7 separate regions of the Homo sapiens genome follow, and all the other regions are linked to region 5. The links come from fine-mapping of genetic effects on gene expression. A gene starts in region 5. Each other region holds a variant in brackets. All regions are shown on one strand. Distances are from middle to middle.

Region 1 (4,499 bases), 70 kb before region 5:
TTGTTGTCACTGATGAACCCAACACTGATCCATCCTCATTCACCGTGCACCCTCACAGCCTCCTCCTGCACCAGGACCACATCCGGATCCCACCCAGGATTTGCTCGTCACGCCTCCCTCGGCTCCTCTCCAACTCCTTGTTTTTGAGGATCTTGACAGTTTTGAGGACCGCCTGGGCATTTTGTGGATCATCCCTCAATTGGGATTGTCTAGTGTTTTTCTCATGGTTAGACTACAGCGATGAATCACTGGGAGGAAGACCCTGGGGGCGAAGTGCCCATCTCACCACATCCCCTCAGGGGTCTACATCATCAACAGGATGCATCGCAGGGGACATTGACCTTGGCCACCTGGCTGAGGCCTCACTCTTTTTAAAGCTGAAACTGCAGGTCCCCAGGCTTTTATCCAAACCCTGGAGCTCGACAGGCTTTTTATTTCAGAGCTCAGGATTTTAGAAATGTAATGTACATTTACACAGCACTCCCATGGGATCCAGGGAAATAACCCATAAGAAAGCCCATGACTGTTTCTGCACTGAAACATGAATATTTACCCTGATTGGAGAAGCAGAGAAAATAAACAGTCTCACTGCAAATTTCCAAGCAAGTTCCAGAAGAACTTTTGTGGGGACTTCAGAACAGCTAGTAAGGGATGGTGGCCTGCCCTCCGTCAGTGGTTCATTCTATAACTTACTGTGCTGGGCTCCAACTGAGGGGTGTCTGGTGGTTTCAGGGCTGTCCCTGCAGCGTTGCAGAGACAGTCCTAGTGTGGAAGTCTCTGTGAGTACCTGCCAGGTAGATTTCTGGGAGGCCACACTTGGCCCCAGGTTTTTGTGTCTTAAACTTGGATTGAGTTGGCCAAGTCGTTCGCCAACAAGGACATATTGATTTGCATTTTCGCAATGATATAGCCTGGGGCTTGTTCCTGAAGCTGCGTGCTTTCAAATGATTGATTGTGGAACACCTGATGGTGAAATCTCATTGGCTGCTTGTATTAGTCCATTCTCACACTGCTGATGAAGACATACCCAAGACTGGGTAATTTATAAAGGAAAGAAGTTTAATGAACTCACAGTTCCACATGGCTGTGGAGGCCTCACATTCATGGCAGAAGACAAAGGAAGAGCAAAGGCACATCTTACATGGCAGCTGGCAAAGAGAGAATGAAAACCAAGTGAAAGGGGTTTCCCAGTATAAACCCATCAGATCTCATGAGACTTCTTCAGTACCATGAGAACAGTATGGGGGAAACCACCCCCATGATTCAATTATCTCCCACCTGGTCCCTCCCACAACACAAGGGAATTATGGGAACTACAGTTCAAGATGAGATTTGGGTGGGGACACAGCCAAAGCCTATCAGTACGGTAGTTCTAATTCCCAGGAGGCTCAGCCTGTTCTCATGTGGTTATAGGTTGCTGGGATTTACCTTCTTGCACCAGCTTCTCAGGCCATTTGCCCATTTGTCTCTTGACGGGTTGGTCTGTAACTTACTCTTTTTGTTGTTTCTTTAATCCCCTGTTTCTGATATATAAGTTGCCAAATTTCTCCCCAATTCTTCACTTGCTCGTGTGCCTGTGTTTTGTTCATTTGTGTTGGCTTTAAGACCCTTATTTTATGTGGTCACATATACCCACCTCCTTTTAAGCTTCCTGTGTTTTGTTTCATTCTTCAAAAGGCCTTGCGCATGCTGAAATTATTTTGTTAGAAACATCTTTCATGATTTCTTCTAGTGCTTTTGTTTTTTTGCCCTTAAGTCTTTGATTTGAGGGAGAGACGCCATTTTTCCTTTGTCTAGGGGGTGAGCCAGCTGTGCCAAGACCATTTGAAATGCTGCCTTTACAACGCAGTCAATGCGTCTGCCTTGTTCCACTGATGGGTCCACCCATCTTCATACCAGCCCCAAACCGCATTTTACTACAGTAGCTTTGCAAGCCATGCTGGTGCGCCATGGACTCCACGCCTCCATGCCCTCACGAATTATTCTAGGATGGCCTGGATGTTTATTTTTCCATATGAACTTTAGACTCAACTTACTTAGTTCCAGAAATAATTGTTGGTATAGGAAAAAGGAGCTGATTGACTCTGCAGCCTGATCTAGGGATAACTGACATATTTGTTATTATCGTGGCTCCTGGTCAGGGTCACGGTCAGGGTCAGTGTTAGGGTCTTCCCTTGATTC[G/A]GGCATTTTGAGCATCCCTCCGCTGTGCCTCCAAGTTCCCTTCATGTGGCTGAGGCACATTTCCTAAGTTTTTTCTGAGATATCTTTTTGTTGCTGTTATAAATTTGATCTCTCATTATATTTTCTATCTAATTATATATGAGAAAGCTGTTGATATTTGAATATCTTACTCTAACCAGTCATCTTCATGAACTCTGTTCATTTTCCAGATATGTAATCATATCAACTAAAATGGTGATCATTTTCTCTGCTCTTTTTCAATTTTTATACCTTGTAATTCTTTCTCTAGTCCAATTGCATCCGCCCATCCCTCCAAAAAATGTTCAATCCTAGTGAATATCTCTGTCTTATTTCACTATCTGTAATTAAGACGATGCTGGTGTGGACTGTCTCTGTAATTAAGACGATGCTGGTGTGGGCTGTCTCTGTAATTAAGACAATGCTGGTGTGGACTATCTATCTCTGTAATTAAGACAATGATGGTGTGGACTCTATCTCTGTAATTAAGATGATGCTGGTGTGGACTGTCTGTGTGATTATGATAATGCTGGTGTGGACTCTCTCTGTAATTAAGACAATGCTGGTGTAGACTGTCATCTCTGTAATTCAGGCAGTGCTGGTGTGGACTGTCATCTCTGTAATTCAGGCAGTGCTGCTGTGGACTGTCATCTCTGTAATTCAGGCAGTGCTGCTGTGGACTGTCATCTCTGTAATTCAGGCAGTGCTGGTGTGGGCTGTCTCTGTAATTAAGATGATGCTGGTGTAGAATATCTCTGTGATTATGATGATGCTTGTGTGGACTGTCATCTCTGTAATTCAGGCAGTGCTGATGTGGGCTGTCTCTGTAATTAAGATGATGCTGGTGTGGAATATCTCTGTGATTATGATGATGCTGGTGTGGACTGTCATCTCTGTAATTCAGGCAGTGCTGGTGTGGGCTGTCTCTGTAATTAAGATGATGCTGGTGTAGAATATCTCTGTGATTATGATGATGCTGCTGTGGACTGTCATCTCTGTAATTCAGGCAGTGCTGGTGTGGACTGTCATCTCTGTAATTCAGGCAGTGCTGGTGTGGACTGTCATCTCTGTAATTCAGGCAGTGCTGGTGTGGGCTGTCTCTGTAATTAAGATGATGCTGGTGTAGAATATCTCTGTGATTATGATGATGCTGGTGTGGACTATCATCTCTGTAATTCAGGCAGTGCTGCTGTGGACTGTCATCTCTGTAATTCAGGCAGCGCTGGTGTGGGCTGTCTCTGTAATTAAGATGATGCTGGTGTAGAATATCTCTGTGATTATGATGATGCTGGTGTGGACTGTCATCTCTGTAATTCAGGCAGTGCTGGTGTGGACTGTCATCTCTGTAATTCAGGCAGTGCTGGTGTGGGCTGTCTCTGTAATTAAGATGATGCTGGTGTAGAATATCTCTGTGATTATGATGATGCTGGTGTGGACTGTCATCTCTGTAATTCAGGCAGTGCTGCTGTGGACTGTCATCTCTGTGATTCAGTCAGTGCTGGTGTGGACTGTCATCTCTGTAATTCAGGCAGTGCTGGTGTGGGCTGTCTCTGTAATTACGATGATGCTGGTGTGGAATATCTCTGTGATTATGATGATGCTGGTGTGGACTGTCATCTCTGTAATTCAGGCAGTGCTGGTGTGGGCTATCTCTGTAATTAAGATGATGCTGGTGTGGAATATCTCTGTGATTATGATGATGCTGGTGTGGACTGTCATCTCTGTAATTCAGGCAGTGCTGGTGTGGGCTGTCTCTGTAATTAAGATGATGCTGGTGTGGAATATCTCTGTGATTATGATGATGCTGGTGTGGACTGTCATCTCTGTAATTCAGGCAGTGCTGGTGTGGGCTGTCTCTGTAATTAAGATGATGCTGGTGTAGAATATCTCTGTGATTATGATGATGCTGGTGTGGACTATCATCTCTGTAATTATGCTGAGGAAGTGTCCTCCTCGATCTGACCTGGAGTTTTGAATGAGATATGATTTTCCTCTCTGACCCTAGATTATATTTTGGTGAGAGCCAGGGGCAGGAAGGTCTCCCCCGAGGGCCAGGGCTCCAGGGCAAGTCACCTAAGGTTGTGCGGCTTGGTTTTCCTCACTGTGAAACGGGCGCACGAGATCTGTGTGGTCGGAGTGTTGGTGCCCTCTGAGGTCCCTGGGGCAGGGGCTGGCACGGCACTGGCCCCAGACCTAGAAAGCAGGGCCACCATCCTGTGTGTCACTGTTGGGCCACACATGCACACAGACCCAGGAAGTGGGGGCCGTCATCTTCTCCATCGCTGCCAGGCCACGCACGC
Region 2 (4,499 bases), 47 kb after region 5:
TCCCGCTGCTGAGAATAGCTTCCCAGGTGCTAATTTCGGGGTTCCCCCCGCCGAGCCGGAACCTATTCCCAAAGGCAGCAGGCCCGGCGGCAGCCCCAGGGGAGTTTCCTTCCAGTTCCCCTTCCCGGCACTGCATGGGGCCAGCACAAAACCCTTCCCTGCGGATGTGGCTGGGCACGCATTCACCAATGGGCCACTGGTGTTTGCCTTCCATCAGCCCCAGGGAGCGTGGCCGGAGGAGGCCGTGGGCACGGGCCCTGCCTACCCGCTGCCCACCCAGCCTGCGCCCTCACCCCTGCCCTGCTACCAGGGCCAGCCAGGTGGCCTGAACCGCCACAGCGACCTCAGTGGTGCCCTCTCTTCCCCTGGAGCTGCTCACTCGGCCCCGAGACCCTTCTCTGACAGTTTACACAAGAGCCTGACCAAAATCCTTCCCGAAAGACCACCTTCAGCCCAGGATGGGCTGGGGAGCACGAGAGGGCCCCCTAGCTCCCTACCCCAGAGGCACTTTCCAGGGCAGGCGTACAGAGCCAGTGGGGTGGACACCAGCCCGGGGCCTCCGGACACCGAGCTGGCCGCCCCAGGGCCCCCACCCGCCAGGCTGCCCCAGCTGTGGGACCCCACAGCAGCCCCTTACCCCACACCTCCTGGGGGCCCCCTGGCTGCCACCAGGAGTATGTTCTTTAACGGCCAGCCCAGCCCAGGCCAGCGGCTCTGCCTCCCCCAGAGTGCCCCCCTGCCTTGGCCCCAAGTGCTCCCGACCGCCCGGCCAAGTCCCCACGGAATGGAGATGCTGAGCCGGCTGCCTTTCCCCGCGGGGGGCCCCGAGTGGCAGGGGGGCAGCCAAGGAGCCCTGGGCACTGCTGGCAAGACACCGGGACCCAGAGAGAAGCTGCCAGCCGTGAGAAGCAGCCAGGGCGGCTCCCCAGCACTGTTCACCTACAACGGAATGACAGACCCTGGGGCTCAGCCCCTGTTCTTCGGGGTGGCCCAGCCCCAGGTTTCACCCCACGGGACACCCAGCCTGCCCCCACCGAGGGTAGTGGGAGCCTCCCCCAGCGAGTCCCCACTGCCGTCACCGGCCACCAACACGGCCGGCAGCACCTGCTCTTCCCTGTCGCCGATGTCCAGCAGCCCAGCCAACCCCAGCTCAGAGGAAAGCCAGCTCCCCGGCCCCCTCGGGCCCTCGGCCTTCTTCCACCCACCCACTCACCCCCAGGAGACGGGCAGCCCCTTCCCGTCCCCGGAGCCCCCCCACTCCCTCCCCACCCACTACCAGCCAGAGCCAGCCAAGGCCTTCCCTTTTCCCGCAGATGGGCTGGGAGCCGAGGGTGCCTTCCAGTGCCTGGAGGAGACCCCATTCCCCCACGAGGGCCCCGAGGTGGGTCGGGGAGGGCTGCAGGGCTTCCCCCGTGCGCCGCCTCCGTACCCCACACACCACTTCTCCCTCAGCAGCGCCAGCCTGGACCAGCTGGACGTGCTGCTGACCTGCAGGCAGTGTGACCGCAACTACAGCAGCCTGGCGGCCTTCCTGGCCCACCGGCAGTTCTGTGGCCTGCTCCTGGCCAGGGCCAAGGATGGCCACCAGCGGTCTCCAGGCCCCCCTGGGCTCCCCTCGCCCCCCGCTGCCCCCAGAGTCCCTGCCGACGCACACGCGGGCTTGCTCAGCCACGCGAAGACCTTCCTGTTAGCTGGGGACGCCCAGGCCGAGGGCAAAGACGACCCCCTGAGGACAGGCTTCCTGCCCAGCCTGGCCGCCACCCCCTTCCCGCTCCCTGCCTCGGACCTGGACATGGAGGATGACGCCAAGCTGGACAGCCTCATCACAGAGGCGCTCAACGGCATGGAGTACCAGTCGGACAACCCGGAGATCGACAGCAGCTTCATCGACGTCTTCGCGGACGAGGAGCCTTCCGGCCCCAGAGGTCCCAGCTCCGGACACCCCCTTAAGAGCAAGGCGGGGGTGACTCCAGAGAGCAAAGCTCCGCCCCCGCTCCCAGCAGCCACGCCGGACCCCCAAACCCCCCGCCCTGGGGACAGGGGCTGCCCAGCCCGAGGCAGGCCCAAAACGCGTTCCCTGGGTCTGGCCCCCACCGAGGCGGATGCGCCCAGCCAGGGCAGGCAGCAGAGGAGGGGGAAGCAGTTGAAGCTGTTCCGGAAGGATCTGGACTCGGGCGGCGCAGCAGAGGGGTCGGGGTCGGGCGGCGGCGGCAGAGCCTCCGGCCTGAGGCCCCGGAGGAACGACGGTCTCGGGGAGCGGCCCCCACCCCGTCCCCGGCGCCCTAGAACGCAGGCCCCCGGGAGCCGCGCAGACCCCGCGCCCCGGGTCCCGAGAGCCGCCGCCCTCCCCGAGGAGACCCGCAGCTCCCGGCGCCGCCGGCTGCCCCCCAGGAAGGACCCCAGGAAGAGGAAGGCTC[G/A]GGGCGGCGCCTGGGGCAAGGAGCTCATTCTGAAGATCGTGCAGCAGAAGAACAGGCGCCACCGGCGGCTGGGGCGGCGGGCGGGCAGGTGCGGCTCCCTGGCGGCGGGGAGGCCCCGGCCCGGAGCTGAGGACCGCAGGCTCCGCGAGTACGACTTCGCCTCGGAGTCCGAGGAGGACGAGCAGCCTCCGCCGCGGGGCCCCGGCTTCAGAGGCCGGCGGGGCCGAGGCGAGAAGAGGAAGGAAGTGGAGCTGACCCAGGGTCCCAGAGAGGATGAGCCACAGAAACCCCGGAAGGCGGCGAGGCAGGAAGCCGGCGGGGACGGAGCCCCCGCGAACCCCGAGGAGCCGGGCGGGTCTCGCCCGGGCCCCGGCAGGAGCCCTCAGGCCCGTGGCCCGTCTCGAAGCCTGGAGACGGGAGCGGCCGCCAGGGAGGGAGGCCCCAAGTGTGCTGATCGCCCCTCAGTGGCCCCCAAGGATCCCCTGCAGGTCCCCACCAACACCGAGACCTCAGAGGAAACCCGCCCGTCGCTGGACTTTCCCCAGGAGGCCAAGGAGCCTGAAACTGCCGAAGAGTCAGCCCCGGACAGCACAGAATTCACAGAGGCTTTGCGTTCTCCTCCAGCCGCCTGTGCGGGAGAAATGGGAGCAAGCCCCGGTCTCCTGATACCAGAGCAGCCGCCGCCCAGCAGACATGACACCGGCACCCCCAAGCCGTCGGGAAGCCTCGCCAACACGGCGCCCCACGGAAGCTCGCCAACGCCAGGTGTGGGCAGCCTGCTGGGTGGTCCTGGGGGCACACAGGCCCCAGTCTCCCACAACAGCAAGGACCCCCCTGCCCGCCAGCCTGGAGAATTTCTGGCACCCGTGGCTAACCCCTCAAGTACCGCCTGCCCCAAACCCAGTGTTCTGTCTTCAAAGATCTCCAGTTTTGGCTGTGACCCTGCTGGTTTTAACAGAGACCCCTTGGGGGTTCCAGTTGCCAAAAAGGGGCCTCAGCCCTACAGCAGCCCCCACAGTGAGTTGTTCCTCGGACCCAAAGACCTGGCTGGCTGTTTCCTGGAAGAACTGCACCCCAAGCCCTCAGCCAGGGATGCCCCGCCGGCCAGCAGCTCCTGCCTTTGCCAGGACGGCGAGGATGCCGGTTCCCTCGAGCCACAGCTGCCAAGGAGCCCACCTGGCACCGCTGAGACGGAGCCAGGCAGGGCTGCATCGCCACCGACCTTGGAGTCCTCATCCCTCTTCCCAGACCTGCCGGTGGACAGATTCGACCCACCCCTCTATGGCAGCCTGTCTGCGAACAGGGACTCCGGTCTGCCGTTCGCATGTGCCGACCCTCCCCAGAAGACGGTGCCGTCAGATCCACCGTACCCCTCTTTTTTGCTGCTTGAGGAAGTATCCCCGATGCTGCCTAGCCATTTTCCTGATCTCTCGGGGGGAAAGGTGCTCAGTAAGACGTGTCCCCCTGAACGGACAGTGGTTCCCGGCGCCGCCCCATCTTTGCCTGGGAAGGGGAGTGGATGTAGCGTTGCTCTTATGAGTCACCTGTCCGAGGATGAACTGGAGATCCAGAAATTGGTCACCGAATTAGAAAGTCAGCTGCAAAGGAGCAAAGACACACGTGGGGCCCCGAGAGAGCTTGCAGAAGCTGAGTCGGTGGGCAGGGTGGAGCTCGGCACAGGCACAGAGCCACCCTCCCAACGGCGCACCTGCCAGGCCACCGTGCCCCACGAGGACACGTTCTCGGCAGCTGACCTCACGCGCGTTGGAGAATCCACTGCACATCGGGAGGGTGCGGAATCGGCTGTGGCCACCGTGGAAGCGGTTCAGGGGAGGCCTGGGGGGACGTGGCCCTGCCCAGCCTCCTTCCATCCGGGACATGCAGCCCTTCTCCCCTGTGCCCAGGAAGACCTGGTTTCTGGGGCTCCTTTCAGCCCCAGGGGAGCCAACTTCCATTTTCAGCCAGTGCAGAAAGCCGGAGCCTCCAAGACTGGACTTTGCCAGGCAGAAGGAGACAGCAGGCCCCCCCAAGATGTCTGCCTGCCTGAGCCCAGCAAGCAGCCTGGCCCACAGCTGGATGCCG
Region 3 (4,499 bases), 240 kb before region 5:
GACATTCTGGGTGAAATGTAACCTGCAACATTTTAAGTCCATAGACAAGCTTGAAAGAAAGACCGGGAAAGCTTTCAGGACTAGAAATGAAGAGTGAAATGAGAGGGTGTTTCGGAGATCCTGAGAATTGTGATGAGCGTCAGAGCAGAGACTGCTCTGCATCCCACATGCTGGAAGCTGGGATGAGCCCAGCCAGGAGGCTCAGAGCCCCAAGGAACTGCGCATGCTGTGAAAAGTGGATCTGAAATCTTTTTGCCCCCTGGCCTGGGGATGTGATGAGGAAAATTGCTGTGAAAAGTGGATCTGAAACCTTTTTGCCCCCTGGCCTGGGGATGTGACGAGGAAAATTGCTGTGAAAAGTGGATCCGAAACCTTTTTGCCCCTTGGCCTGGGGACGTGATGAGGAAAATTGCTGTGAAAAGTGGATCCAAAACCTTTTTGTCCCCTGGCCTGGGGATGTGATGAAGAAAATTGCTGTGAAAAGTGGATCTGAAACCTTTTTGCCCCTTGGCCTGGGGACGTGATGAGGAAAATTGCTGTGAAAAGTGGATCCAAAACCTTTTTGTCCCCTGGCCTGGGGACGTGATGAAGAAAATTGCTGTGAAAAGTGGATCTGAAACCTTTTTGTCCCCTGGCCTGGGGACGTGATGAAGAAAATTGCTGTGAAAAGTGGATCTGAAACCTTTTTGTCCCCTGGCCTGGGGACATGATGAGGAAAATTGCTGTCTGTCCAGGCTTTGAGTAGAGGAAAGAAGTTTCCCATAAGAAATAGAATCTCCAGACCTTCTCGACACCTGAGTCTGGTGACTGCATGGTTAGCACAGCACAGAATCCCTAAGACGGAAATTCACAGAACCCCAGGCCAGAGGATCTGGTAAATGAGGACATTTCCTCAGCCCAGCATTCGTGAGACAGTCTCCAAACAACAGCATCAACAACAAAAGATACACAAAATAACTCCTACCGAGTTTGAGCTCCAATAAACAGCCACAGGAAGAAACGAACTGTCAGGATCAAGTGCAGTGAACACAGAATCAGCACTGTGCAGACAGGGAATAATTGAACAGCAGGAAATACATGTGTTTATCTAAAATTATTTAATACAAAAGAGGGAGTCATAATGAAAGTCCAGAGCAAGAGAAATGGATTTGGCATTGAAGTGGCAGAACCGATTTAAATGAAAAATATAGTCATAAAAAAAAACTTTGGCTATATTAAATGGAAGCTGTAAGAGAGCTGGTAAGAAAAGTGGCCGGGGAAATACAATACGGAGGAATAAATATTTGGAAAGGAAGACAGAGCCATTTAGAAATCGGAGGGTAGCACGGAGGAAAGGAGGACGGAGCCACGTAGAAATCGGGGGGTAGCACGGAGGAAAGGAGGACGGAGCCGTGTAGAAATCGGGGGGTAGCACGGAGGAAAGGAGGACGGAGCCACGTAGAAATCGGGGGGTAGCACGGAAAGTCAGTGACAACACTGATTTACAAATGAGCAGGCAGAACGTGAGAGACGCGATGTTCAAAGATCCTGCAGAAAAGCCGGGGGCCTTGCCCTTCTAGTTACCAAAATATACTCTAAAACTGTGTTAATCCAGGAGGAATTTCAGTATAGAAACAGGTAAGTGGATTTTAAATTGAGGCCAGGCGCAGTGGCTCAGGCCTGTAATCCCAGCACTTTGGGAAGCCGAGGTGGGTGGATCATTTGAGGTCAGGAGTTCGAGACCAGCCTGGCCAACATGGCGAAACCCCACCTCTACTAAAAAATACAAAAGTTAGCCGGGCGTGGTGGCGGGCGCCTATAATCCCTGCTACCTGGGAGGCTGAGGCAGGAGAGTCGCTTGAACCCAGGAGGCGGAGGTTGCAGTGAGCTGAGATCATGCCATTGCACTGCAGCCTGGGTGACAGAAGGAGACTCTGTCTCAAAAAAACAAACAAACAAA[A/C]AAACAAAAAAATCAAGTCTAGCGTATGGCCCTTTACAAGAGAATTTAATGTAGGAAATTGGTCACGTTTGAAAGAGAGGAAAGAATCATTCAGAGGCATCGTTGGGCCAATGAATCCACCATCTGGAAAAACAAAGTTAGAACCCCACCTTACGGACACAATAAATTCTGTGCAGATAAATCCGCTAAATTGCAAAAAAAGTATAAAAGTATTAGTAGAAAAATAGAATAGTTGTATAATTCTGGTGGAGGAAAAGACTTTCTACCCCAAATTCTAATCCCAAAAAGGACAAGATGGACGTCTTCAGTTACATAAGAAGTTAAAGCAGTTGTGTAACAAAAGACACCAAAACCAGTGTTAGAAGACAAGAGTCGGACTAGGAAAGAAACATGCAGCCCGGGAAAGACGCCCTGGGAGGTACCCCCGTCCTGGTCCCCGGAGCCTGCTATGAAATGCTCAGCCTGGGAAAGAGGCCCTGGGAGGTACCCCCGTCCTGGTCCCCGGAGCCTGCTATGAAACGCTCAGCCTGGGAAAGAGGTCCTGGGAGGCACCCCCGTCCTGGTCCCCGGAGCCTGCTATGAAACGCTCAGCCTGGGAAAGAGGTCCTGGGAGGCACCCCCGTCCTGGTCCCCGGAGCCTGCTGTGTGCCTCTCCCACGGCAGTAGGGCCTGTGCAGATGGGACTGAGCGAGAGGCCTCCAGGTGGGGACCATCCTGGTCATCTGGGTGGCCCAAGGTCATCACGGGCATCCTTGTAGGAGGGAGGCGGGAGGCCAGGGGCAGGAGGGTCAGCAGCAGGCAGTGGCAATGGCAGCAGAGGTCGTGGTGACGTCAGAGGCACCATGAGCCCAGGAACACAGAAGCCTCTGGAAGCCAGAAAAGGCAGGAAAGGGATTCTTCCCTGCGCCTCCAGAAGGGACCAGCCCTGCCGACACCTTGATTTCAGCTCCGTGAGAGCCGGTTGGGCTTCTGACCGCCAGAGCTGTGGGAGAATGCATTCGTGTTGTTTCAGCCATAAGTCTGTGGGCCATTTGTGACTGCAGCCGCAGGAGGCTACGCAGACAGGCTCATGTGTGCAGATCTGAGCTGAGCTCGAGATGCCTGATGCAGATGATAGGAAATAGTCCACAGCGGCCAGGATCTCAACAGGCTTCCAGGGGAACAACACAGCGATGTCCAAGGGTGCGTCCAGGGTGAAACTGCAGGGCCACGTTCAGCACAGGGAAGCAGAGAAAGAAGGTGAGAATAAATCAGCTGTCCTTCCTGCAAGACCCGGCTGGGCGGGGGGTCTGGGAAAGGCTGCCCTGGGAGGGTGAGCAGGTTCCCTGGGCTCTCAGCCACAGCCCTGCCCTGCTTTGCTAGGTCAGGCGAAGGCACCTGACCTTCACCTCCTGGCCCTGGCCCTGCCATCCAGGCTGGGCAGATGATGTTGGCGGGCCAGAATCCTGCGAGGGTTATCCTGAGGCTCGAAAGTGGAAATAGATGGGAGGGACCTTGAAAAGCTCAGAGTGATGCCTAAGCGGGTCCTTATCAACAGCCCAGTGTGAGCCTCAAGCACTGAACTCCAGCCTCAGGACTGAGAAGGTCCTTATCAACAGCACAGACCTCAGCGTGAGCCTCAAGTCTCAGGAGCTTGAAGAATGGCTTCTGTTTACTGAGCACACGTGATGTGCCAGGTGTGGCCCTGGGGCTCGAACTCTATTGCCTGGTCTATAAAGCACATGTCACCACCCTGTTTTACAGAGGAGGAAACTGAGGCTTGGGGAGGCTCATCAGCTCACCCTGCGGGGAGTCGGCCGGCAGCAGCTGCGTCGCTGTGGATCCCACCCGAGGGTCCCTGATGTGGGTCACACCTGTGTGCTGGCTTTAATCCCCAGCCCCACCTGGATGTGCAGCCTGGGGCCAGCATGGCCCACAAGGGTGGGACGGATGGCATCGTCACCCTCCACGCACAGGGGCCTGAGAGCACAGGGCCCCTCAGGGAGAGCCCCTGCGGCAGAATCAGAGTCTCAGGAATAAAGACAAGCAGAGGTCTCAGTTTCTCTGCCTGAAAACTGGGGGTGGCAATCCCCACCTCACCGGCCTGTGATTAGGATGGGAGGAGACAGGCTGAGATGGGGCCCCAGGCACTTCACCGACACCCGGTGAGCACTCACCGAATCCTCACCTGGAGAAGCCCTGGGGGGGTGGGGGGCTCAGCGGCCCTGCCCACGGAATGCCCACCTGGAGCTTCTTCAGTCATGGCATCAGGGGCAAGTGCTTGATCGTTTTGTGCCTCAGTTTCCCCCTGTGTCAATGGAGATTTCAGCAGTTCCAACCTGTTCAACACCATGAAGATGGAATAGGTTAGCGTGCTTAACGCACTCAGGGCCGTCTCCAGCCTTAAGGAGGCACCACTCAGAGCGGGGTGGAGCGCCTAGCGGGGTGGGGTGCAGAGCGGGCTGGGGCGCCGAGCAGGGTGGGGCACCGAGGCTGTGTTCCTTGTTGCTGGGGGGATACAGATGCCCCCCCACTCCTTCCCCCTAAGACGCAACCACCAGCCTGGAACTGGAAGTGGGGA
Region 4 (4,499 bases), 96 kb before region 5:
GCCCAAGGCACACGTGCCCATGACCATCACTGACTGTGGAGTCTCAGGGCTGCTATCTGGGCCAAAGGCCCGTGTGCCCGGAGAACTGCCCCCAGAGCTGTGGTAGGCAGGCAGCATCAGCCCCGCCTCCCGCAATGGAGCTATTCTGGGTACATGAGGGTTCCTGCCAGGGCAGGTGAGGCCCTCAGGAGAGAGTTCTGAGCAGGGCCCACTGCTGAGCGGTCTCTAACCCTCGGCATCTGTGCAGGGGATCAGGCAGGTGCAGCAGCCATGGTCACCCTGGTGGACGAAGACAGGCAGCCAGGGGCTGTGGGGAGACAGTGTGGGAGGCCACACTGTCACAGCAGAATCTTCCAGGCATTGCCACAGCCAGCGTGGGCAGGGCCACAAAGAGCAGGGTCAGCCTGGTCACGAGGTGAGGCCTTTCCAGCAGCTGACACGGCACCCAGGACCCGAGGCCCACCTGTGGCCCATTTGGCACCCTCTTGCCCACAGCTGTGGTCTGTCCATGTAATGTCCTTTCAGACACGCTGGAAGCGTCGGCACGGTGGGGAGGTGCTCAGGGCCTCCGTGGGGCCGGTGGAGAGCAAGCCAGCTGGTGATGTCCCTGGGCCCTCTCTGAGTGGTGGGCAGTGAGGGGGTTGGGAGTGCCCTCTGGCAGGGGCCACCATGTTGTCTGCTGCTTCCCAGGCCACCCTCGTCACAGTGCAGTGGTGGCAAATGCTTTCCATGTGGGAGGGGCCCTCGTGCCACTTGGCCTGTGGCCACAAGAAGGCCTCAGCTACAGATGTCTTCATCCCTCCATGAGACTCCTGCTGACCCTGTGAAGGCCGCTCACTCTGGCATTGTCTGCTCAGCCCCCATCGGACCCACAGCCCGGAGCATCGCCATCTCCTTCCTTTCAGAACCACCCACCTGTGTTTTAGCCCAGGAGCCCCAGTCCCAGCCCACTCGGTGCCTCCATCGTGCCCCATTGCTGGGGATGGAGCACATTCCCCTGTTGGGAACTGCCTTTGGCTTTTGGAGTTTTTGTGCATCCTGTCCTGCCTGGGACGGATGAGTTTCTCAAAGTCACAGGTCCCTCCAGTTGTTTTCCTAAGAAGCCCCCACTCCGTTCACCACAGAGTCCTGAATGGATTCAGGCTCCTGGGCCTCAGCGGCAGCTAACTGTGCAACAAGATTGATTCGCTCCTTGGAGTCCTGGGAGAGCCACGGCCTGGCTGCTGACATCTGCCGTTATACTCAGGTGGCTGCCAGGCCTTTCTGCACCTGCCTGTCTGCTCTGAGCTCGCTGGTGCCCTCTTCTCCCTGCCCCATCCTCTCCCCATCTGAACGCCGGGTATTTACACCTTCCTGCCAATCTGCAGGAGCCAGCTCCCACATGCCATCCTCTGGCTGCTGATCTGAGCCACTTGCCATCGGGAGAGGACATGGCCCCTCACCTGGCCTGGGCCCCTGCCAGGGCTTTGTCAGTGCAGGTGGGGGAGGGAATGTGGAGGACAGGAACATTCTGCATTCAGTGCTGACAAGATGCCATCATTCAGCAGGGGCTGGCTGGGAAGAGGCTCCCAATGACTGACAGGTGAGCTGCTGTGAGCTTTAGAAGGAACAGAAAAGTACTTTCATGTTCCCAGTGCTGCGTGGCCCACAGAACAGGACAGATACTGCCCTGTGGCCCTGTCCTGGCCCCTCTCTGCCTCTGTGTCTTATAATACTGCATCCATCCAGGTCACATGAGTCCCCCTGAGGCCCTCGACTCCCAGATACTGAGCTCTGGGGAACTCGCTCAGGAGAGGAGATGTGGGTGGAGCCACATCAGGGGGAGTGTGTATGAGACCATCTGACTACAGCAGCTCAAATGAGCTTAGGAATGCCTAAGTCCCGTTTTTCTTATTCTTTTGCTTTTATTTACAGTTCTACCCTATAACTAGTGTCCCCAAACACTAGATTTTTCTTGCTTTTTAAAGCTTTTCTGAACATGGTAGGGTCCAGGCCATATGCTGTTCTGTGACTTGCTTTATTTCACCGAATCTTCAGTTTCTAAGGTGCACCTTGGTTGTTGTCCGTAGCCGATGGCCATTCATCCTCACTGCTGTATAATACACCCTTGTGTGAATGTGCCACAATTTGTCTACCCAAGTCTCCTGTCAACGGACACAGGAGTTTCCAGTGTTTTGCTGTCACAGTGAAACTGCTCTGAGCATCACAAGTCTCCTGATGTGTGGCACAAAGGTTTCTCTAGGTGCACATGTATATGGCATGTTGCATTGTAGACAGTGGTTGTGTACAACCGCACCAGCGGAG[C/T]CCAGCCACCTCCAAAAGGCTGCACCACTGCCCACTACCACTAGGGGGAGACAACAGCTCCAAGTCTCCCCACCTTGTAGCACCTGCTACCCTTGAACTTCAGTTTCTTTATCAATCCCATGCTGGCAAAACTGTAGCTCACTTTTTATCTGGTGGATCATTTTATCACAATTATAAATACACATCACTTAAAGCCTTAAAACATTGAACAGTTCTATAAGGCTTGTTATGAGAAACAACATCCCTCCCAGGTCCAGCCCCCACCCCCAGTACCCTTTCCGGTCTTCATGTTGCTATGAATGCTGGTGTGACGCTACTTCTTGAAGTTCTGTTTTAAGCATTATGCATTCACGCTCCAGGCTAGACTTCCTTCACCCTGCCGCATTAGCCTTATGGCCAGCGCTGACTTCATGGTGATCACGTAGCTGTAATTCATAACTGAGGCTTACTGAGTACTGTCATTTCCTTTTCTTTATTGCACATGTTTTTTAGAAATGATTTGAGATTTTTGTCGGTTGGTTGTGATTGGCTGGTTTGTTTGCTTGCTTTTCTGTGCACTTATTAATTCAATCCCAAACTCACTCCAGTTGTATAAATCTCCTCCCAAGACTTTCAAACACACTAGATAATTTATCCATTTCATCTTTGTGGAGAAACCTTTTTCCTCCTGCTGCTCCAATCTGGACTAGATGTTCTCCGTGCCCTGTGGTCAGTCAACATTTTGCGAGTCTCCTTTCTCCATCTTACCGGGGAGTATCTGTACCTTGCTCTTGTGTTGAATCTCCTGCTTCCTAGATCCATGCCCTTCACCTTCTTGGTTTACTCCCTTGTTTTCATGGAGCATGCCCCCAGTAGCTTTGTGAGAGAGGGAGCCAGGGAGGCACGCATGTTGAGAACTTGGATGTTTTCACATGTGTTTATTCTACTCTGTCACTCACGCTCCTTGATGGCAGGACCTACCTGTTTTTTATTTATCATATTTGCCTTTGTTCACCCCATTTTTATTGCCAAGAACATTGTCTCCTACCCATCCACCTATCCAAATCTATCAATCATCAAGGCTACACTCTATGATATTTATTGCATCACTCTCTTGACATTTATACTCATCACATTTATTCATTAATTCAGCATTCACTTGATGAACACCTGCTATGTGTGTTTGAGGAATTCACAATGAATCAAAAACAAGCTCTTCTGCCAAGAGGAATTCTAGAATGCTGGAGCTAGACGGGACCCCTGATACTGTCTCATGTAACCCCTGTTGCATAGATGGAAAGATTGAGACCTGCTTGTCCAAAAAGTATGCAGCCCAAATCTCCTGACTTCCAGGCTCTTGCTCTTCCTATGTCAAAAGCTATGTACCAGAGGGGCTTTAATATAAAAGGATGACAAATAAAAGTAAAAGCCTGTGACCAGAGTTTCACAGGAGAGAGAGAGAGAGAGCACTTGTAACAGAAGCACTAAGGGCAACAGTACCAGAAAGTCATTTAATGACAAAGAGCATAAAGCAGACACTCCATACATCCAGTGTTCTTGGTGACTCTACAGTTATAGTACAGTGGTGGTGATGATGGTGGTGGTGATGATAATGACGATGATGAGGGTGATAATGATAACAGTGATGGTGATGATGGTGGTGATGAGGGTGATGATGATGAGGATGTTGATAGTGATGAGGGTGATGATGGTAACAGTGATGGTGATGACGGTGGTGTTGAGGATGATGGTGATGGCAATGATGATGATGATGAGGGTGTTGATGATGATTAGGTTGATGATGGTGATGGTGGTGATGATGAGGGTGATGATGATGATGAAGGTGATAATGGCAACAGTGATGGTGATGATGGTGAGGGTGATGGTGATGATGATGGTGATGAGGATGATGGTGATGGCGATGATGATGATGAGGGTGTTGATGAGGGTGTTGATGAGGGTGATGATGGTGATGATGGTGATGGTGATGATCATGATGATGGTGATGATGATGATGATTATTATGACAAGGGTGATGATGATATGATGATGATGATTAAAATAACACAATTACACCGATCTGTGACTGCGAGTTATTGAGTGTTTGTTCTCTGTTAAGTAAGTACTATGCTGAGTGCTTCACCTAAATTAGCTCATTTAATCTCCCATCACCACTCCATGAGCAATGAGTGTTATTTCACTCATTTTACAAATGA
Region 5 (4,499 bases):
AGACACACACACACACGCACTCACACAGACATGCACTCACATGCACTCACACACAGTCATGCCCTCACCCAGACATGCACTCACACACACTCACAGACATGCACTCACACAGACACGCACTCACACACAGACACGCCCTCACACACAGACATGCACTCACACATATGCACTCACACAGACATGCACTCACACACATGCGCTCACAGACATGCACTCACACACATGCACTCACACAGACACGCTCTCACACACAGGCATGCACTCACACACGCACTCACACACCCGGACATGCACTCGCACACACGCACACACAGACATGCACTCACACACACACTCACACACAGACACGCCCTCACACACAGACATGCACTCACACACATGCATTCACAGACACACACACAGACATGCACTCACACACGCACTCACAGACATGCACTCACACGCACTCACACAGACATGCACTCACACACACGCACTCACACACATGCACTCATGCACTCACACACAGAGACATGCACTCGCACACAGACACACACTTATACACACATGCACTCACACACAGAGACATGCATTCACACACACGCACTCACACACAGACATGCACTCTCTCACACACACACACGGGTTTGGAAATTGAAGTCTTTCTTAGAAACAAGAACAGACCCAGTAGAAACGAGAAGGAAGGAAACGCCCTCTGGGGTCTTTGTCCACAGCCAGGGGACCCCTGGCCCTTGAAACTTTAGGAAACCCGCTTGATTGAAATCCTGATTAACTCGAGAGGGTTTCTTAGTTCTTCCCCATTTTCCATGGAAAGGGAGATCCCAGGACCTGGAGGCCCCAGATGATGCCATGGAAATGTGAGCCAAGCCTCGAGCCTCTGGGGCCTTTCAGCCCCTGCCCCTTTTTCAATTCACGTTTTCGCGTCCACTGGCAGGAATGCCATGTGCTGCGATGCCAGCACAGAAACCCCACTGCCATGTGCAGTTCCTTTTAGTTTATTCTATACCGTTCGCAGAGTCCCAAAACAGCTTCAGGAGGCAGACCAGATTGGGGGAGGGGCAGGCCCACTCATTGGCTCCACCAGAAGGCCCGTGGTTAGGCCACACCTTGCTTTACATAATAAAGGTGTCCTTAAAAGGGTGTGCAACTTGAACTTGCGTAAGTAAAGCGTGCTTGACCTGCTCCCGGGGGACCTTTGTCTGAAGGACTAATTCTGAAAGCATTCCTTTCTGCGAAGTCCCCCCACTGCCACCCTATTTCTTAGAAGTCCACCAAGTTCATGACTTGGGATCCTCTGAAGTGGGGGAGGGCGATCCGTCCCCAGATGCTGCCCGTAACGCTGCACCCCTGCCCTTGGAGGAGGCCCACACGCCCCTGTCTGGGACAGCCGGGGACGGGCACGTACTGGGCCAGGGGGCTCTGCCTGGAGCCATCTCCGCCGTGTGGCCTTGGGCAGGTTCCTTGTCTTCTTCAGGCCTTGGTTTCCTTGGCTGTGAATGGAGATGTTGGACAAATGACCGGTAAGGGCCTCTCCCTCTCTAGGGGCCTGGATGGCTCCTAGCGCCCCACCAGCAATGCTGCCGAACTCACGGGCCAGTCTGGGGCAGTCCCAGGGCTGGACAAGGGACCCAGAGTGGAGACACGAAGGTCTGGGGGCAATGTTAGCTCCCACCTATGAGAAAGCGTGCCATGGGGACCTCCTTATGGTGCCTTCGAGGGCCAACTTGAGCCACTCAAACCGAACTTGCCCAGGCAGGTGCCAGGTGCCAGTCGGGACATCCCCCACCTCCTAGACAGAAGCACAGGGACAAGCGTGTCATGTGTGGGCACCTGGGGAGCTGGAGCGCAGGCCAGGGATGGAGATAGAGCAGCCACTGGAAGCCACATGGGTAGCATTATGGCAGACGTTTTTTAAGTTGTGCTGAATGCAGCGTTTCCGTCTCAGCAGCAAGGCCTGCCATTCTGGGGTGGGCTGGCTGGGGAGTGTGAAGAGGGGGTTCAGGGAGCAATGCCTCAGGGCCCCCCATCGCCGGGGTGGGTCCCATGAAACAAACACCTAGGAAAAGCGGCGCTAAAAATAGCTGGGGGGAGGGTGCGGGGGCGGCGGAGTCTGTAACCTAAGCCGCCCCAGCCTCCGGGGGGCAGACCCCGCGGCCGCCGGCCGGCGTCCGGCCTTCCCAGCACCCGGCCCAGGGCTGGAGCTGGCTGCAGGGCTGGCCCGCGGCGACCTGGGCAGGGTGGCGGCTGCTCCCTCTCCTCCCACCCCGCCCCGAGGCGCAGCGCGCGGCAGAGCGGCTCGGTGCCCGGCGGGCGGGCGGCCCGGGCGGGCCTGCGGTCGGGATGAGGACGGCGCCTCCGCTGCAGAGCGCTGGGGCGGCGCGGGCCGGGAGCTCGTTGGCGGCGGCCGGCGTGGCGGGCGGAGCGGGCCTCGGAGCGGAGGTGAGTGCGGATGCGCCGCCTGGGCGCGCGCGGTGCCTGGGGACCCCGGGCTGGAACGCGGGGCGGGGGTGTCACCGGGCTGCGCGGGGGTCTCCGGCCCGGCTCCCGCTCCTGCGCCCTCGGGGGCCGCTCCCCGGCGGGGCCGGACCCTCCCAGCGCTCGCGGCGCCCGGCCCGGCTCCCCCGACCTCCTCCTCCCGGGCCCGGACGTGCGGGGCAGCGAGCGCCGGGGCCCGGCGGGGGCCGCAGCCTTGCCCGGAGCGGAGCGTTGGCAGCGCGGGGTCCGGCTCCGTGGGCAGTTTGGGAAGCGCCCGGGCAACGTACTGGCGAGGGCCGCGGAGCGAGGGGCTCGGGGAGCGGGACCTCCGGGCGGGGCTGCGGGGAGCGGGGCCCGGGCCGCCCCATTCATCGCGGATCGGAGCCGGGGGTGCCCCAGCCGTGCCGCCGCCTCCTCCGGGCCGCCCGCCCGGGCGTGCTGGCCCCGCGGCGCTCCGAGCGCGGCATAGGCTTGCGAGTCGGCGGTGTCAGCGCCCCGGACGGGGGTGGGAGCTTTGGAGCCCACCCTGGGGGAGACCACGCCGCACCCCCGCCCAGCCCCGCGCACCCCCAGAGGCTTTTGCAGAGCCGGGAAGTTGGCTGGACGTCTAGACCCGTGGGGACGCGGCGCCCCGCGTGGCGGCGGCCGGAAGGGAAGGCCAATGGGGCTCGGGGGACTCCCGCGGCCACCCAGTCCTTGTCCCTGCACCCTGGGCCGAGGGCAGAGGGACAGGTCCCCGGCGGGGGCGGGGGGGCAGCTCAGCTGCCAAGTCCGCTCCTGCAGCGGAGGCGGTTAACTGCTTCATCCCCAGCCGTGAGCCATGCTGGGCATAGGGAGTGTGCCACGTGTTATCACGTTTAATCCTTACGTCCTGAGATCCGTGTTAACCCAAGTCTTAGATGCAGAAACTGATGGTCAGAGTGGGCTGATGCTGGGAAGTGAGCACAGCACGCGGTAGTGTCGTGGACAGCCCCTGCCCATTCTGCCAAGAGCAAGTCTAGTTCCCTTCTGCCGGTCGGGTGGACAAAGGTGTCTTGAGGCCCTCTCAGTGCCCAGCCTGTCCTAGGTGCCCCCAGCACAGCCCACAGCCCTGCATTCCTGAAAATAAACAAAATAAACAGGTAAATGCCTGGACAGCGTCGGGCGTGAGGGCTGAGCAGGGAGCTCGGAAGCTGGGGCGGAGCTGCAGTTTTAGGAAGGGCAGCCAGGCACCCTCGGAGGAGGTGGCCTGGGAGACGTGTCTTCCATGCCATGCGCCTGGCAGGTCCCAGACCACAGGACAGAGCTCACCGGGAGGTGATCATTCTGCCCTGCAAATAGAAAAGAGGAAGAGGATATCTGAGGCAAAAAGGAAGGCCAGGGCCTTCTCAAAGGGAACCCAGGGGCCCCGCAGAGTCTCAGCTTGGGAGGCACAGGTGAAGGGTGTGTGGCTGTAATGCCCCGAGGCTGGCAGCTCTGGGCAGTGTGCAAACCAGGAAGTCCCAGGATTTCAGGGTCAAGGGAAATTTTGGGGTCATGAACTTCAACCCCCTCATCAGCGCTTCAGTCTCCACCAGACCCTGCCTCCAGGTTACTGACTCTGCTTGGATACCTCCAGTGACCGGGAACTCACTCCCCATCACAGCAGCCTGTTCCAGCCATTCCTGCAGTCCTACCAGCTGGAATGCACTGGTCCATCATCCTGAGGCAGCAGGCAGCACATCTGCTCAGCTGTTACACATGGCTGCCTTTGGATAATTTTAATAGGGATGGTCTCCCCCTGTATGCCTAATCTCTTCAGGTCATTTCTGACTTGACATTCCTGGTCAGGCCCCATCCTGCCACCTTCCCCTGGGAGAAATTCAGTGGGTTTCTGCCCTTTCCTCGTGTTTGCTGAACGGAAGTAAACCTGAACACCAGGGTGGCCTGGAAGCAGAGATGCCCTCCCCTCCTTTCTCCTGGAGTCTTGTCACCACCGATAGTGCCCTAGATATCAGGCCATGGTGGACTCATCTGGAGCCCAGATGGTTTCAAGACAAGCCCCC
Region 6 (4,000 bases), 380 kb after region 5:
GGGCACCAGAGCAGGACCCAGTGGCAGGAAGGATCTGGGAACATCAGATGCGAAGGTCCTGGGGGAAACCCAGAGGTCATGAAGCTGCGGAGGGTGGGGCGGGGTACGAAAGGGGATGTGCCTTGAGACACGGGGTCTCGGCCACAGGAGATGGGGTCCTCTTGAAGCCCCAGCAGCAAGCACGTGGCAATGCCCTCCCGGCGCCCAGGTTCCATATAACCCATTCTCCAGAGCTGAAGTCCACACCACCAGCGTCGCTGGATCCTGAGCAGGTAGATTCTTAGGCTGAGGTTCATCCAAACCCAGGCGCCATGTTCTAAAGTGTCCTCTGGGAAACATGAACGTGCTCTCCAGGCAGAGATCACGCGTCGACATTCCCCTGCCAGGCCGGGCGCGGTGGCTCACACCTGTAATGCCAACACTTTGGGAAGCTAAGGCGGGTGGATCATGAGGTCAGGAGTTCGAGACCAGCCTGGCCAACATGACGAAACCCCGTCGCTACTAAAAATACAAAAATTAGCCGGGCATGGTGGCACGTACCTGTAATCCCAGCTACTCGGGAGGCTGAGGCAGGAGAATCGCTTGAACCTGGGAGCCTGGGATCCCAGTGAGCTGGGATCGCACCACTGCACTCCAGCCTGGGCGACAAGAGTGAAACTCCGTCTCAAAAAAAAAAAAAAAAGAAAGAAAAAAGGAATGCCCCTGCCACGGCCTGCCTTTGACTCCCAGCATCATGCCGTGACCTCCCAAAACGAGGACTCCGCCCTCGGCACCAGGGGCAGACACTGGCGACCACTCCAACCATGGCCCCAGCAACTCACCCCAGAGAGGCAACAAGGGCTTCCTAAGAAGCCTGGCCATTGAAAACCTCCCGGTAGCCGCCTCTCAGGAGCACTGCCTTCTCAACACAGCTACCTGGCCCTGGCAGACCCGGCTGCCCACTGTGTCCTCAGCGGTGCTGGACCCAGGACAGAAGATGGGGTGCTGACTCAGAGCCCTCACCCTGTGATTTACCCAGCGGCACCCAGCCCCCTGGCCTGTCCAGTCTGGCCTGTCTAGACTGCCCCAGGGCCCAGTCACAGGCTGGCCTGCTCTCTAGGGACTTCCCCGGCACTCAGAGAGGAATGCAACCTGGCCACCTCCCTCGCAGGCAGGAGGGGAGTCACCAGCCACTCGGAGGCAGCCTGGAGAGGGGGTGTCACGGGCAGGTGTCTGGTCACACTCCCTTCAGAACCTTGCTTCCCCTTCCCCCCAGGCCACTGGGACAGGGCAGGAGAGGGAGGGGAATCTCAGGGCAGGTGTCCAGGATGGTCGTACATCATGTCTGTGTACTTCTGCAGGAGACTGGGGTCTGGTCCTAGCTCAGCCCTCCCCTCTCTGTGCCTTGAGTTCCCAGTAAGTGAAATGGGGACAGAATTGGGCACCTGTACCAGAACCATCTTGCCCTCCCAGTGGATGCCACCCCAGAAGCACTGCCCGGACACGTGGCCAGGTGAGCACCTCGTATAGCTGGCAAGGGGCTGGACAGCAGCGCCTGGAGCCTGGCTCCCTGGTCTCTAGAGAGCCCAAGTCGTTATCTCTAATTTTTTTTTTTTTTTTTTTTGAGACAGAGTCTCACTCTGTCGCCCGCCCAGGCTGG[A/C]GTGCAGTGGCACAATCTCGCGCACTACAACCTCTACCTCCTGGGTTCAAGCGATTCTCCTGCCTCAGCCTCCCGAGTAGCTGGGACTACAGACACCTGCCACCACACCCGGCTAATTTTTCTATTTTCAGTAGAGATGGGGTTTCACCATGTTGGCCAGGCTGGTCTCGAACTCCTGACCTCAGGTGACCCGCCCACCCAGGCCTCCCAAGGTGCTGGGGATACAGGTGTGAGCACTGCACCCGGCCGCTATCTCCATTCTGAACAGGGTGCTGAGGATGGAGGAGGTGCGACCAGAGACATCACATGCGAGTCAGCGCACGGCTGTGTTCTCAGTCGGCAGCGTGGGTGCCGTGGTCACGCCTGCGGGTGGGGTGTGAGGGTTGATTCATGTGTCAGCGCTGCTGGGCCACGCTGCCCAGTTTAGTCAAACGCCAATCGCAATTTGGTGTGCAGGTGTTTTTAAAATGAGATTGATTTAAATCAGCAGACGGCATGAGGGCCTCATCCAATCAGCTGAAGGCAGGGGAGTGTCGCCTAAGGGCCCGGAGGAGGAATTCCCAGGACCGCCACAGAGAAGCCCGGCCTGAGCGCACAGCCTGGACTCGAGACTGCAACAGCGGCTCTTGACAGCCAGCGCGCCCTGCGAACTTCAGACGTGACAGCCCCACAATCGCGTGCGTCAGCTCCTTAAAATAAATACCCATTTCACAGGTAGAGAGACATATCAATATATAACAAGCACCAGGCTGGTGTGGCCGAGGCCTGGGGACCCCGAGTTCCTGCCGCCTGTGTGGTCCCTCCCAGCACCTGGCAGGGCCCAAAGGGGAAGCTCAGGCACACACCCACCTACCTCCGGGGCCCTGGGCCCAGCTGACTGAGCTTGACAGCCAGCTCTGCTGCCACAGGGCTGGGGCGAGTGGGACGCCGGGGGCCCCCACACATACTCTGGAAATTCAACAAAGTCATGAAGCAACCAAGGGAAAAAAATCAACATTCTGGGCTCATAACCACTAGGTGGGCAGGGCACTGCCTGGCTCTTCCCCAGGATCACCAGCCCCAGAACGGGGACCCGGCCCCAGCTGCTCTCAGAGCCACAGGGACGATCACCTCAGGCCACGAGGGCCGGGGCCACCCCAGGTTGGAACCCTGGGCCCAAACTGGCTAGAGTGGGCCTCAGTTTCCCCTTTCCATGAAATCTCAGAGAACATTCACTTTCCTCTTCTCCACTTTCAAAAGTTTTTAAAATGCAGAGAAGCACAAAGTAACACCCAAGGTCCTCACAGTCAGCCTGTGAGTGCCGCGACTGCTCTGCCCGCACGAGCCTATTCTACCAAGCACAGCTTTCCCATCAGCTTCTCCGATCGATTGGCTTCCCTGATTGATTGATTAGCTTCTTCCCGGATTGAGCTGCAGTGCGCTCTTCACTCATCTCCCCATTCCTCCCCCTTCCCAGAAGGAAACGGTCTCATGAGTCTCGGGACATCCTTACGGGAAGGAGACATTTCTGAGTTCTGGAATTCCATCCAGGGCCATCTGCAAGGGCATCCCTGGCCTGTGGCTGTGCTGAGACCCCTGGGCCAGGTCCTGCCCATGAGGAAGGAGGTCAGGGGGCTGTGCTGGGAGAGCTTTAAGTCACAAAAACAGGCCCCCACAGCCCAGAGCCCCCCAGCCCTGATCCCCCAGAGACCAGAATGACTGAGGCAGGAAGGAAGGGGACCAGCCACAAGGTCGAAGCTTCAGTCAGCTTTGGAACTCCCCCACTGCAGGTGACTGGCTGGGGTGGAAGCCGCCAGCTTCCCTACAAACCCCTGCTCCTCTCCCATCTCTCTCAGGACCCCAAGAGCCACATACCATCATACACTTGGCCACTGAGCCAGAACCCACATTTGCAGGGGGAGCCCATGTCATCCTCAGCCACCTAGGAAGGCGGAGTCACTGCTGTCCCCTGGCTCAGAGGAACCAGGGTCCCCAAAGGTCACAGGGTGAGGCCACCCAGCCAGGGAGGGGCAGAGCCAAGCCAGAACATCTCCGCTGAGCCTTCTGCCTCAGGGTGACCCCACCCTGCCCTGCCCTACAGCCCCGAGTCAGGACTACAGCCTTGAGGGATCGAGGGGACTCAAGCCAGCTTCCACCACTGAAGGGCAAAACCCACACTCCCTGACACAACCCCCAAGCCCTCGCAGACTTCCCGGGCTCCCTGACAGCACGAGACTCACGCACATGCTTCTCCCGCTCCCTCCCCCGGGTCCAGACCCCAGGTCCCTGAGATTTCCCCCAGGCCCTCCAGAGGGGACCCCGTGGACCAGACCCCTTAAAGCAGAGGTCTGCAAAGTGGGACCCACGAGCCCCCAAAGCCAT
Region 7 (4,499 bases), 190 kb before region 5:
TGAACAAGAGCAGGAGAAGGACCGCCCTGAGGGCAGGAGAAAAGGGTGTGAATCGGGATAGAAGTCAGAACCCCACCAGCTTCTCGCCTGGGAACCAATTGCTGGGGCTGCTTCCTTCCTTCATTCATTCCTGCTTTCTTCACTTCTTCATTCCCTGAACATCAGACATGGTCATAGGCCCTGCTGAGAATTAAAACAGAACAATGAACAAGTCCCACTCTCAGAACGCAGGCAGAGGTGAAATGTTCGGTGGGCTATGGTGATGGCTTTGGAGATTTACTGGTAGCTTCTGTGGGGTTACTCTGGCTGGGATGGGGACCCCAGGGGCCTGCTATGGACAGAATTGTCTCCCTCTCAAATTTGTATATTGAAGTCCTAACACCCAGCGTGATGGTATTTGGAGGGGGGGACTTTGGAGGGTGATTAAGTTTAGATGAGGCCATGAAGGTGGGACCCCATGATGGGACTGGTGTCCTTACAAGGAGAGGAAGAGGCTGGAGCTCCCTCTTTCACCTTGTGAGGACACTGTGGGAAGCCACCTGGAAGTCAGGAAGGGCCCTCATCAGAAGCCAAGTCAGCCATACCTTGATCTTGGAATTCCAGCCTCCAGAACTATGAGAAACAAATTCCTCTTGTTGAAACCATGCAGCCTGAGCTGGTGGAAGCGTTCGGGGTGAGCATGGCTCCTGCAGGGAGATGGAGCAGGGACATTGTGTCAGGTCTAAGGCTGCTGGTAGAGCCTCAGCTTCCTTTCCTTGGCACTCACCAGGCCATGCTGGGAAAGAAGTCTGAGCCAGGTAGTTCGGAAAACACCCCCTTGGTAACTCTTTTGGGAAACGGAGACAGACATCAAGGTCTTGTCTACTTTGTGCAGGAAGATGACATGCGGTAATAAGGAAAAGAAAATGGGAGGTCCTCTGTCTCATGGAATTTGGGGTCACAAGTGTCTCTACAACACCTTACTGGGTCTCAACTCCCAGCTTCTCAGGAGCAAGAGACAAAGAATACAGGTCAGCAGAGCAGAGCCCGAGGGGCTGGTCCACAGTCCAAGTCACACATGATGAGGACAGTATTGAGAGTCATCACATGATGATGGCAGTGATGGTGGTAATGATGATGGTGGTGATGGTGATGATGGTGGTGATAAAGGTGATAATGGTGGTGATGATGGTGTTGATAATGGTGGTGGTGACAGTGGTGATGATCATGATGGTGATGATGGTGGTGATAGTGGTGATGACAATGATGGTAATGATGGTGATGGTGGTGGTGGTGGTGATGACAATGATGATAATGATGGTGATGACGGTGGTGGTGATGATGATGATGGTGGTGGTGATGGTGGTGATGATGGAGGTGATGGTGATGATGGTGATAGTGATGATGGTGATGATGATGAGGATGATGGTGATGGTAGTGATGGTGGTGGTGATGGTGGTGGTGGTGATGGTGGTGATGGTGGTGGTGGTGATGGTGGTGATGGTGGTGGTGATGATGGTGATGGTGGTGATGGTGGTGGTGGTGATGGTGGTGGTGATGGTGTTGATGGTGGTGGTGGTGATGGTGGTGGTGGTGATGGTGGTGATGGTGGTGGGGATGGTGGTGATGGTGGTGGGGATGGTGGTGATGGTGGTGGTGGTGATGGTGGTGGGGATGGTGGTGATGGTGGTGGTGGGGATGGTGGTGGTGGTGATGGTGGTGATGGTGGTAGTGGTGATGGTGGTGGTGGAGATGGTGGTGGTGGGGTTGGTGGTGATGGTGATGATGGTGGTGACGGTGGTGATGATAAGGATGATGATATTGATTATGAGAGTTGTCTTAGTCCATCTGGGTTGCTTTAACAAAATACCGTAAATTGGAGGCCAAGCATGGTGGCTCACACGTGTAATCCCAGCACTTCGGAAGGCTGAGGCTGGAGGATCACTTTAGGCCAGGAGTTCGAGATTAGCCTGGGCACTACACAGGAGGATCCATATCTCTACAGAACATTTTAAAATTAGCTGGGTGTGGTGGTGTGCACCTGCAGTCCCAGTTACTCAGGAGGCTGAAGTAGGAGGATAGCTTGAGCCCAGGAGGTTGAGGCTGCAGTGAGCAATGATCTCACCACTGTGCTCCAGCCTGGGTGGCAGAGCGAGACCCTGTCTCTAAAAAAACCCCAAAAAAACATAAATTAGGTGGCTTATAAACAACAGAAGTTTCTTTCTCATAGTTCTGGAGGCTGGGAAGTCCAAGATTAAGATCTCAGTAGAGACAGTGTCTGGTGAGGCCCATTTCCTCATAGATGGTTA[A/T]CTTACTGCGCCCTCACATGGCGGAAGGGGCAAGGGGGCTTTCTAGGGCCTTTTATAAAGCACTCATCCCATTAATGAGGGCTCTGCTTCTTAACCTCGTCACCTCTCGAAGGCCCCACTTCCTAATCCCATCACTTTGAGGTTAAGGATTTCAACAAATGAATGTGGAGGGACACAAACACTCAGGCCTCAGCGTGGCCCGGCACCTGCAGAGTGTGGCTTGGTGCAATCACTCTTTAAGCTCCCGCCCCTGGTTACTTGGTTTATTCCCCCCTCCGCCACACAAACCTCCAAGGCTGGGCTACTGATCATCCTCTTCCTACAGACGAGAGACTGCAGGCCTGGAGATGGCACAGCCTGCTCAGGCCACACGGCCTGCAGGTGGCACTGCACTGCAGCAGCCGGGGACGGGCCTCACGTCCTCAGTGCCCCGTGATGTCATTTCAGTGTCGGAGCAGGGAGGGACCTGCTTGTTTTAGAGAAGGGGGTTCACCTGGGACACCCCTGAGCTTTGTCCCAAGCCTCAACAAGCCACTCACTTCCCACTTGGGAGTAGTTTCTCTGCACGCACCAGGCAGTGGGACCAGGGAAGAAATCGCGTCCGCTAAGTGGTGTCGTCTGCCTGCAAGACCTGCACAGCTCCCAGGCCTATGGCTTTGGGCACCAGGTGCTGGGCCGGCGTCTGGAAATGATTAATTCCCTTTGGAGAGAAAAACATCACAGCTGCGTGGCCCTTCCCGGTCCTGGGCGTGGGGCGGGAGGCAGCCGTGCCCGGGATTTCGCGCTGCCCCCGGCGTCTCCTTCCCCGTGCTTTTGTGACTTGATCAGGGTAGATTTATTTTCCGATCCACTGGTTTGTCAACATGTCAATTGACTTGCCTCCATCTGCTTTTTCCCCATGCCAGGACGGTGCCGGCTGAAAGGGAAGTGTCAGCTGTTCTTCTGTCTTTAAAAGGCAGCAAAGAAAAAAGCGCAGGGTTGGGTTTCGTAACGTCAGAGGAGGCCAAGGACACAGCATGGAGTGAGTTACCCGGGCGGGGAGGGAATCGGTGGGGCTGGTCCACGTCGCTGTCCCAGGGAACGGTATTTCTCTCTTTCTTCAGCCCTCATGCGTGTTGCTGGGCTGTGGACACTGGACGAGTTCGGAGAACTCTGGGCCACGTAGGCCCCAGAGGTGCAGGCTGATGGATGGGCTTGTCTTTCTCCCCTTGTCGCCTTTCAGATCTGACGGGAAACGCATGTGGGCGAGGAGGTGATGGGCTTCAAGGCGCGGCTCTCTGGTCGCAAGCCGCCTGTTCTCAGAATACAGCTGGCTGTGTTGTAATCGCACGCTGATCTCACAATAAATAACGTGTGCATGGAACGTGCCTTCAGATGAGCGTGAATTTTTACAGTGTGCACAAACAAAATCCCCCAGCCTGGAGAGCTAAAAGCAGGAGGCGGCCCAGGGGGTGACAGGGCCTGCCTTTCTGGACATGCATGACCTGCAGCCTCTGCACCGGGACTGTGCTGCTAATTATAGCTGTGTTCGTGGGCCCCGCTGGGTGGTTTTGCGAAAATCCATGATTCAGTTCACACTGATAATCTGCTCTGAGGCTGTGGGTGAGGGAGGATTTTCTGGGGGAACAGAAGGTGATCTGAGGGCTGGAGGGGAAGTGGGTTTTAGCTGGGGCTGTCGGCTGATCCTGGCCAAGAGACAAGGTTGCAGAGTTGATTCTGAAAGTTGGACGTGTCTTGGGGTGAGAGTCTCTCTGTCATATCGTCAGACTCAGCATGAAGGTGGTAACAGTCCTCGAGAGGGCATGGGCCCAGCTAACAATGGCAGATGGACGTTTGAAGAAAAGGGGGAAGAGGGCTCTTGCTCTGAGACCTCGGGGTGTCCCGAGATGCAAAGGAGAACAGAGCCCAGAGCGTCAGGAAAGGTCCCATGAGTCTCTCATTGGTCCCCCACCCTGAGCTGTCTCCAGGGAAATCTCTTCTGGAGTAATTTATATTCCATGTCAACTGGTCAGGACAGCCTCTGTGGGTTTGGGAAGGTAGGAGGGAGCTCCAGAGACAACACCGAGCAGGACTTGATGCCCAGACACTTGCTCCCAAGATGATTAACTTGGGAAACTGGAATTATTCTGCCCAGAGGAGGCTGCGTCGTGATCCACAGACATCTGATATCTCAGGCCACATCAGTAATGTTCTGTTTTTCCTGGAGACCTG

Direction of the effects. Positions count from the first base shown, and alleles are read on the strand shown. Sizes are in standard deviations (SD) of each study's normalised expression. Not every link is listed here.
For the expression in CD4 T cells of the gene that starts at base 2,144 in region 5, A is the high allele of the variant in region 6 and C is the other (large effect, 1.1 SD a copy in BLUEPRINT).

What was found.
Region 1: its variant is fine-mapped to the expression of ZNF469 in fibroblasts (GTEx, PIP 0.95).
Region 2: its variant is fine-mapped to the expression of ZNF469 in whole blood (TOPMed, PIP above 0.99).
Region 3: its variant is fine-mapped to the expression of ZNF469 in blood mononuclear cells (TOPMed, PIP 0.99).
Region 4: its variant is fine-mapped to the expression of ZNF469 in blood mononuclear cells (TOPMed, PIP 0.94).
Region 6: its variant is fine-mapped to the expression of ZNF469 in CD4 T cells (BLUEPRINT, PIP 0.95).
Region 7: its variant is fine-mapped to the expression of ZNF469 in whole blood (TOPMed, PIP 0.98).

What each region holds. Positions count from the first base shown.
Region 1 is chr16:88,310,922-88,315,420 of GRCh38, forward strand. It overlaps a transcript of ZNF469 not described here. Among named protein-coding and RNA genes, the nearest start is that of ZNF469, 70 kb to the right of the region's middle. The variant G/A (reference allele first, on the strand shown) is at 2,182.
Region 2 is chr16:88,428,178-88,432,676 of GRCh38, forward strand. It overlaps ZNF469 (zinc finger protein 469), which reads left to right. Exons shown (of 3, transcript NM_001367624.2): 3 at 1-4,499. It overlaps LOC112268182 (a long non-coding RNA gene), which reads right to left and starts at 2,185. Exons shown (of 3, transcript XR_007065178.1): 1 at 2,095-2,185; 2 at 1,787-1,945. RefSeq lists a silencer at 2,419-2,578. The variant G/A (reference allele first, on the strand shown) is at 2,418.
Region 3 is chr16:88,139,013-88,143,511 of GRCh38, forward strand. It overlaps a transcript of ZNF469 not described here. Among named protein-coding and RNA genes, the nearest start is that of LINC02182, 53 kb to the right of the region's middle. The variant A/C (reference allele first, on the strand shown) is at 1,940.
Region 4 is chr16:88,285,117-88,289,615 of GRCh38, forward strand. It overlaps a transcript of ZNF469 not described here. Among named protein-coding and RNA genes, the nearest start is that of LINC02182, 93 kb to the left of the region's middle. The variant C/T (reference allele first, on the strand shown) is at 2,305.
Region 5 is chr16:88,380,816-88,385,314 of GRCh38, forward strand. It overlaps ZNF469 (zinc finger protein 469), which reads left to right and starts at 2,144. Exons shown (of 3, transcript NM_001367624.2): 1 at 2,144-2,439. RefSeq lists enhancers at 1-415, 960-1,503.
Region 6 is chr16:88,764,086-88,768,085 of GRCh38, forward strand. The region is part of intron 1 of PIEZO1 (piezo type mechanosensitive ion channel component 1 (Er blood group)); the gene reads right to left. Among named protein-coding and RNA genes, the nearest start is that of PIEZO1, 19 kb to the right of the region's middle. RefSeq lists enhancers at 1-653, 3,548-4,000. The variant A/C (reference allele first, on the strand shown) is at 1,640.
Region 7 is chr16:88,191,557-88,196,055 of GRCh38, forward strand. It overlaps LINC02182 (long intergenic non-protein coding RNA 2182), which reads left to right and starts at 2,725. Exons shown (of 3, transcript NR_110944.1): 1 at 2,725-2,955; 2 at 3,194-3,309; 3 at 3,511-3,661. It also overlaps a transcript of ZNF469 not described here. RefSeq lists enhancers at 2,507-2,801, 3,010-3,542. The variant A/T (reference allele first, on the strand shown) is at 2,289.